Homo sapiens: one gene and its partner. The protein of the gene in region 1 purifies or fractionates together with the protein of each later gene. This does not show direct contact. Each region holds a gene or a part of one and is shown on either strand. Other genes may lie near its edges. The genes, in order: MEGF10 and TFAP2B.

The links.
Region 2: the proteins of MEGF10 (region 1) and TFAP2B purify together in Homo sapiens (affinity purification with mass spectrometry, with the first as the bait; one study listed by BioGRID). This does not show direct contact.

The regions. Positions count from the first base shown.
Region 1 is NC_000005.10:127,293,733-127,297,548, reverse strand, and holds part of MEGF10 (multiple epidermal growth factor-like domains protein 10 isoform a precursor), read right to left. Parts: intron 1-3,816. UniProt on the Homo sapiens protein: Membrane receptor involved in phagocytosis by macrophages and astrocytes of apoptotic cells. Receptor for C1q, an eat-me signal, that binds phosphatidylserine expressed on the surface of apoptotic cells. Cooperates with ABCA1 within the process of engulfment.
Region 2 is NC_000006.12:50,817,372-50,821,976, reverse strand, and holds the start of TFAP2B (transcription factor AP-2-beta), read right to left. Parts: upstream 3,086-4,605; coding exon 3,005-3,085; exon of another isoform or gene 2,951-3,004; intron 546-2,950; coding exon of another isoform or gene 500-545; intron 1-499.

The DNA of each region.
Region 1 (3,816 bases):
GTCCCACACTGCCAGGAAGCCTCCAGTGAGCTCTTGTGGCAGCTCTCAAAACTGCCACTTGGCTCTTACTATACCCAGGCTTACCTGCTCAGTTGTTGTTTTTTTTTTAATTGTTGAGGGTACATAGTAGATGTATATATTTATGGGTTACATGAGATATTTTATATGGGCATGCAATGTGTACTTTTTTAGTCTGTTTTTTCCTCGAAGGCAAGAGCTTCTTGGTAATTACACATGGTATTTTCCCCTATGCCCTACACAGCTAATAAATATCTGATAAACAGCCAGGTGCAGTGGCTCATGCCTGTAATTCCAGTACTTTGAGAGGCTGAGGCAGGCAGATCACTTGAGGTCAGGAGTTCGAGACCAGCCTGGCCAATATGGCAAAACCTCGTCTCTACTAAAAATACAAAAATTAGTCAGATATGTTGACACATGCCTGTAATCCCAGCTACTCGGGATGCTGAGGCAGGAGGATCACTTGAACCCCAGAGGCGGAGGTTGCAGTGAGTTGAGATTGCGCCATTGCACTCCAGCCTGGGCAACAAGAATGAAACTCCACTTCAAAAAACAAAACAAAACAAAACAAAAAAAACTGGTGGAACAAAAAGTAACTCTCCAACCTATTACTTTTTTAAAGAACCAAGTCACATATTTTTTATCAATTCTTCATCCAAACTCAAGTACTTTTCTCAAGATGTCAATAGGGGTGGATATTTAAATTTTTTTGTTTTGATTGTAGGATTAGTCTTCTGTGCCACCAAGCAAAAATTTCATAGTTCTATTTCACTCTGTGAGGAACAAGTTAAATTTGTGTGTTTTAGTTTTCAATTTGCCATCAAAAATTATTTTTTAAGAAAGCCAAAATTCTTCAGCAGAAGGTATTCAAAAGATCCATCTTGGGAACCACCACCTGTGGCTATGTTGAGAAACAGCCAAATCTGTACAGCTCATCTGGGTCAGATGAGACATTAATGACAAGGCACTTAGTCATCCTCTAGGATGTTCCCAAAGATAAGATGTTTTTAACAGATGCTAATATCCTGCACATGTACCTATCAAGATGAGGTTTTCCATACTGAAATACTGTTTTCTTTGTCTTAGAAGTGGGAAGGGGTACAATTTATTGCCCTCTAAGTAGGAAATTGAGGTGCTTAAATGCTTTACATAGTTTCTTTATCTAGGAGTATAAATCACTAGAAATGAAATAAGAGAGGAAATCACTAGAAATGAACAACCATAATAACAGGATGTATTATCACATTCACACTTTCCAGATTGGCTAATGCCACAGAGTTTGCATTATCAAATAACATCCACACAGTGACTTGCCATTCCACAAATAAAGTTCTATAAAGTAAAATAACATTGGTTTGTACCTTCTTTTTCCCTCATAGTATGAGAAATCCTTTTACTAAATGCTCTAAATTAGTCCTCTGCAATAACTATATTTAAAAAGAGTTAGAATGATCATGGTGAACAATAATGCAAAATGGTAAAGAGAGACAAAAGGTAAATTAAAAATTTCAGGACATTCAGATATGAAGAATGAATGAATGACTGAATAAAGAGATTAGGAGAGCAGTTAAAAGACTTCCAAAGGTTGGCAGAAAATGATACAGGCTTATGCTAAGCTAGAAAAAGTTCATTTCAGAAACATAATTTTAAAAGAAGACAAATCAACAGAACCCAGTGAATCTTGTATTAATTCTTAAAACTAAACTAATTATTAAAACCAGATACTGGGTACACACCCTTGAGAAACTGAGAGTAAAGGCAGTCCTCAATATTGCTTCGTTTGAAGTCCATCAATGTGGATATTTGTACTACATCTATTGATGCTACTACCTCCCTGCCCTGTGTCATGATGACACTCAGATGCCAGCTAATGAATGAACTTTTTATGTTGTTTATTTTATGGTGCAGCTGCCCTAAGCCAATAGTTCAATTTTTGCAGAATCACCATCCTTGTCATTACCCAGAGAATTATTCATTCACTTATTCAAATGTTACTGCATATTTTCATTATTACAAAAAAGTGAATGGGAAATGGGAAAATTAAAAGCCTAATAGTAATTATGAGAAGTGTTTGTCTCATAAACTAAGTAAGACAAAGGTAGAAGTTATTAGACATGCCAAAAATGGCAAATCTTTTCATCTGAATCAGACATTTATTGAACTTGAGCTGGTCAACTGTTATTGAAATGAGGAGAAAATAACCAAAATTGTGTAAAGTTTAAAGAAAGAAAAATTAGAAAATGGAGTATACACTGAATGCTGTGTCTAAATAGCAAGATATAATTAGAGATTTCATAATATATTTGGCTTTCTATGGCCAGAATCCCCTATAATATGTAGGCTTTTATACAATCTTCAGACCTATTTTCAGGAATGTGTCCTTTCAGGAAAGAAGGAAAGACAGTATTGAACCAGTCACCATGTTTCTGATCAAATACAAAAACAGAAGCAGAAGTGTTTTATAAATGGAAAAGCACAGAGCAAAGTTGGTTTTTATTGGCATTGGCACTTCCTTTCCAGTGCTCTGACACGTCATTCCAAAAACCAAACCAAAACCATCCTAAAGGATAAGCTCAGCTCTTCATTATACTGCCTGCAATAATGTTCAACATGTAACATTAATTCAGTGGCATTTGGTGTTTCATAAGTCCTCTTAGGATATTCTGTCTTGTCCTTTTTCTACTCCAAGTTATTTATTATTATTATTATTATTATTATTATTATTATTATTTGAGACAGAGTCTCACTCTGTCACCCAGGCTGGAGTGCAGTGTCGCGATCTCAGCTCACTGCAACCTCTGCCTCCCAAGTTCAAGTGATTCTTGTGCCTCAGCCTCCCAAGTAGTTGGGATTACAGGTGTGTGCTACCACTCACGGCTAATTCTGGTATTTTTAGTAGAGACAGGATTTCGCCATTTTGGCCAGGCTGGTCTAGGATCCCTGGCCTCAAGTGATCTTCCCACCTCAGCCTCACAAAGTGCTGGGATTACAGGCGTGAGGCACCATGCCCAGCCCCACTTGAAGTTATTAACTTCCTAGGCTATGTCTAGCCAAACTGGAAATTCCCAACTGGCTTTTCCACACCCTCCATATGTATACAATACTGTCCCAACCACTTTGTCTGCTAAGAAAATGTTGACTATCATTCATCCATTTACTTTTCTCCAACATTCTCTAGGCATTTATTCCATAACTACTATGGGCCAGCCACTTGTATAAGAGCTTACAATAAGGAATGATGAACTCACCAATCTGTTAGGGATAAACATTCAGATAATAAATATGGCTGATACAATGTGATTATGCTATATTAAATCTATCCACAAGAATGGGAACTCGCATGAGATATCGCTAAGTTTATGAGATAATTGGGAAAAACTTCAGAGGGAAAGTCTTCAAAGGGATTTGAATAGTGTCTTAAAAGATGAATGGGTGGTAAGTGGTTGGTTAGACAGGAAAGAGGGTCAAAGACATTTTCAGAGGAAGGAACAGCATATACAGCTGGGTCATGGAAGAGTGAAAGTGCACAGCGTATTCTTGAGATAGTAACAAGATCAAGATCAGTGGGAGCTGGAGAGCTGGGGACCAGAGAAGCAGAAAATAACCCTGAGAAGTGCTGCAAAGGTGGTCTTGTGTATAGCGGTAAGGAGGTGAGACTTTATGCTGTAAGCCAGTGTTTCTCCAAATGTGATCTGACGTCAGCTTTACCAGGTTCACCTGGAGATCTCAAAATGCAGATTACTGGCCCTTACTTCTGGGGTGAAGCCCTGGAATCTATATTTTCAACATGCACCCAGG
Region 2 (4,605 bases), on another chromosome or scaffold:
ACCCCAACAAGATTGGCGATGCCTGTCACACACAGACAGAACTATTCATCTGTCTCTTTGCTGTCTTTTTGGCCTCTTTTCTTCTGCCGTTCTTCGGGGCTCCAGATGCAGTCCTCTTTCACCCGAAGCTGGGCTCAGACTGCTCGGCCGCCCCTTCCTCCCTCCGCTTGCCTACACCGCCTCATAATAATTGATATTCATGACTATTAATATTACACGAGTACTTTAAAGGGAGAATAGAGGACAAATGGAGCGTGAAGCAGCAGCGAGCGCAGAGCTCCCCTACTATTGTAAATGACGTTCATTCAGTGGAGAATTACTAGATGTAATCAGACGAGGGGGCTGGCAAAGGCAGACTGGGGAAAAAGTTTAGCAGGAAAGAGGCAGAACTTCAATTAACTGTGCCGGGGACACGAGTAAAGCAGCCCCTGCTCCTTTGGATAAGGCAGTGAGGGAGAACAGTGCTGGGAGGTTGTATAGAATGGAGGTGTCCTCCTACCTGGAGAGAGACTTCCCTAATCCGGAGGACTTGGTCGCCTTGGGTGCTTTGTGTGAGGATTACAAAAACAAAATAAAAAGGGTTGCTTCATCATTTGGAGGCGAGAGAAAGGCAAATTGGTGGGCCTGGTTATTTACAGTGACTTTTGCAGACTTTTGCTAAATGTGGAAGATTATGCTCATTTGTTAAAGGACAGAAGCGAGATGGAGGCTTTTCATTCCTGTGCAGCCTTTTCCTGTTTAGTGCTCACATAGTTTGCGATTTTTACCTCAATTTAAAACATACGCCATCAATCTTCAAATACACTAAACTTATCCTTTCCAGGCAAAGCCAGGGGCAACAGAAAACCTTTTTGGATGTTTCAGGAACCCGTTCAACTGGCCTGACTGCCATTTCTGTTAAAGTTCAACCTTAGTCCAGACTTAAATAGGCTCCTTCCACCGAGCTGCGGATTCTGTTTTTTGAGCAGAAAATTTAGGCAGATAGGACCACCTGTAATATTCCCTCTCTCTCCCTGTTTATTTCTCTTTCTCTCTCTCCCTCCCCTCTTTTCTCTTCTCTCTTCCCTCCCTTCCACTCCACCCCTCCCTCTTCCTCTCTCCCTCCCTCCTTTCTTCTCTCCCTCCTTCCTTTTCCATTTAGCTACTTTACTTTCTGTAAAGAACGAATGTTACCCTGGTTACTTTTTAGAACCCACTGAAATGCCTCTGCATGCATATAGCTTGAGCTGTTTTCACCATGGCCCCGTGCTTGCTAATGTCATGCCCACTTTGGGCGCTAATATTCTTTAGGACAGTTCTAGCGCCTTGGACTTTACCATTATCCCGCCTGTTAAGGAAAGAAAAGGAGGCCGAACCGAAACAATCCCCACCAGGCGCGTAGGCGCGGCTCTTCGTTACAGTCGATACACAACCACAAAGAGAAAAGGAAAACCCCAAGCATCATTCAGCAACAAGACCAATCTCTCTCCTCTCTGCTCTCTCGCGCTCTCTCCTGCTTTTCTCCCTCTCCTCTCTTATCTCCTCCTCCTCTCTCCTACATACCTCCACACATACACACACCCCAACATTAGGATTCGGGGGGGGGCAGGAGGTGTGGGCGCCAGGCGCTGCCTGTGGGCGCTCGTCCGAGCCCGAGTCCCCCAGGAGCTTGCCGGCCGCGCCTGTGAGTCGCCCACTCTTAGGATCTTCGAGGCGGCTCTGCGCCGGGCTTTCAGGAGCTGTCCCGATCCGGAGGGGTCGCGTGTCTTTCTCGGCTCTTTGGGGAGCCTCTGCATCCCTCCACCTTTCGTCTGACCTAGCGGCCCGCGCCCGCCACCCGGGAGTCTGCTTCTCTTCCTTCCTTTTCTCTCCAACTTTTCCTCTTAGCAATCTCCATGGCCCGCTTCGCCCGCCTCGACTTCCCTCCTTTTCTAAATCCGCTTCGCCTTTCCGAAGTTTTTATTTCCAACCTCGACGTCTCAGCAGAACCTTCCCTTCCTCCCTTCCCCTGGCAACCACCTGGGGCTGTCCCAGACCATTCCGCTTAAAAGCGAGGCTCCGCGGGCTTCCCGGTCCCCAGCCTGGCCCGCCGCGCGCCCCGCGCCTCGCCCGCCTCGGCCGCCTCTCCCACCTCGCCCGCCTCTCCCACCTCGCCCGCCTCGGCCGCCTCGTCCGCCTAGTCCGCCTCGCCCGCGAGTAGCGGAGCCGTCTGGCCGCGTCAGCCCTCGCCCGAGCCGGAAAAGGGCTTTGGCGAGCGCGGTCCGGGCCCCGGAGGCGGCTGGCGTCCTCCTGGCTGGGCGCAACTTCTCCTGCCCCGAAGAGTTGAGCTAGCCTCAGTGCTAGAGACCCGTACGCATTGAACGTGGGCAGAAATTTCCGTGAAAGATGCCCACACAGGAGGCGGCTGCGATTTCTGTTCGGACGCAGTGACCCTCAAGGAAGCAAAACACAAGAAAACAGAAACTAATAAACTGCTACGACTTCTATTTTGCTCTATCCATCCATATCTCCAGCCATCTACTTCTTTCCCGCTAATTCTCTGTCCTCTACTTGGAACCATTTGTTATCAATTTCAGAAATTTTATTGAAAATAAAAATTAAAAGCCCGAGTCTGTTACAAATGAGGCTTGAAAACCCAATTCTCTTCCACACTTAAAACGAGAAAAGCCCCTGACTTTATCAGAATCTCGATTTTCTCTGAGAGCGTGCCCACATTCAGTAGCACCACATTCCCCATCAGAGCTTAAAAGGGTGGGGTGGGGTGGGGGGAGGCGAGGAAAAGGGAAAGAAAAATAAAATAAATAAAAACATTCCTAAATTAAAGTTGTCAGATTTCAGCCTTAAAGTCCCTTTTCAGAGCAGCGAAGTCTTCCCTAGCCAGCTTTTCTAAAAGTTAAAAAAAGCTGAGAAAACCGACCGGAAATCTACGAGTAAATAGCTTAAAAATATATATCATTTGGGGTATCAAGAAGCTCAAATTCTCTATCTGCAAAGCTCTAAGGTGCATCTGGGGGTGTCGACTCACCTCATAGATATCTTCGTACTTGACATTCTCCACAAGCTTCCAGAGCATGATGGCAGCCTGGTCTCTAGGAGGTGAGTGCATTCATGTGAGGAGCAGATGTCTGGCTTCTCAGGACTCCGCTGTCTGTAATGATCCATCTATAATTGGAAATGGGGGATACACACCAAATCCGACGCTCCTCTCCCATCGCAACTTATATCTGTTGTCTCAAACAATAGGCTGGACAAGTAAGCCTCAGCAAAGAGAAAAAACATTATTGCACACACAGGAGTTAGATGCAACCCACAGACATATATACTATAAAAATCATAAACCCGTATTTACACCCAGACACCCACATATAGTTATATAAGCACCTCTGGGTCACACAGTCTGCAGACTCCAAATGTGCATTTAACAAAGAGTTGTTCAGGGTGATTAATATAATATATACATTTTATAACTTCTATATCGAAAATGACACATCATTGTAGCCACTAACTGAAGTCTTTGCAATTCATAATGAGAAACCAGGGGCCATCAGTCCCCTATTTTCTATGTAGATTTTAAAGGGGGACACTTACCAAGATTTTTAAACACAAAAGCTCCCTCCTATTCATGTATGTTCCGGAAGAGAGTATTTTGAAAGGCTGGATATGGGGGATTTTAAGGACTATCTCTGTGTTGATGGCTACACAACTTTTTTTTTTTTAACTTTATCTCTGTCACCATAGAACAAAAAAGCTAGCCACCGTTGATGACCATTTCTAATATTTTCTGGTCATTTTACCTAAAACCTTTGGAAACTTAAATACACCTCAGTTTGTGCTGCTTGTTATTTTAGGTGTTGTTTGTATGCATTTTCAACGGATTCCATGCACCATTCCTCTTGGCTGGAGTCTCCATTTTATCAAGTTTTTTTCAGATGTTGGAAGCAACGTACGCACACGTTCAGACAAGGTTAATTTTGAGCCTTTTTTGCAGAGGCCAAGGACATTTTATATTTGCATCTGTTGTGTATGACTTGTAAGTGGTTTTAATCATGGAGAGTCAAGAAAGGGCCACCCGAATCTTTGAAAAGGTTTAAGCAGAATGTCTTCAAAGAGATAGTGAAAAATATTTTAGTGCATGTGGAGTTTCTTCTTTTTTTTGTATAATTTTTCTTAATAAGATGATTCATATAGTTTTTAAAAAGGAAAACATCATCAGCAACAAGAACAATATTAACCAGACTTAGAAAATGGGCACCATTTAAGGCGCAGGGATTCTGAATTTTATCATGAAATGAATACTCATCTGTTCCCCTGTTCCCCCTTTCCCATCCCCTCTGTTTTTCTACTCCCTTTCAGGGTGCGGAGAGCTTCTCATAGCCGGAACAGACGCCCAGAAGAGGATCTCTGCGCCTGGGACAGAAAAGAAATGCCAGGAGGGACCGAGGAGGGATGGGGCAATTTGGGGTGGAAGTTATTAAGCCTGGTGAGAGTGAATCTGCAAAGGGTGATTGTCTTTAAATCCAGGACTGCTGTGTGCAGCTCTGCGCGAACAGGGATGGACGCTGTTTGAGTACAGGGCTCCGGACAACCTTGTTGGACGTCGATTCAATCAAAACCAAGGAGAAGCTT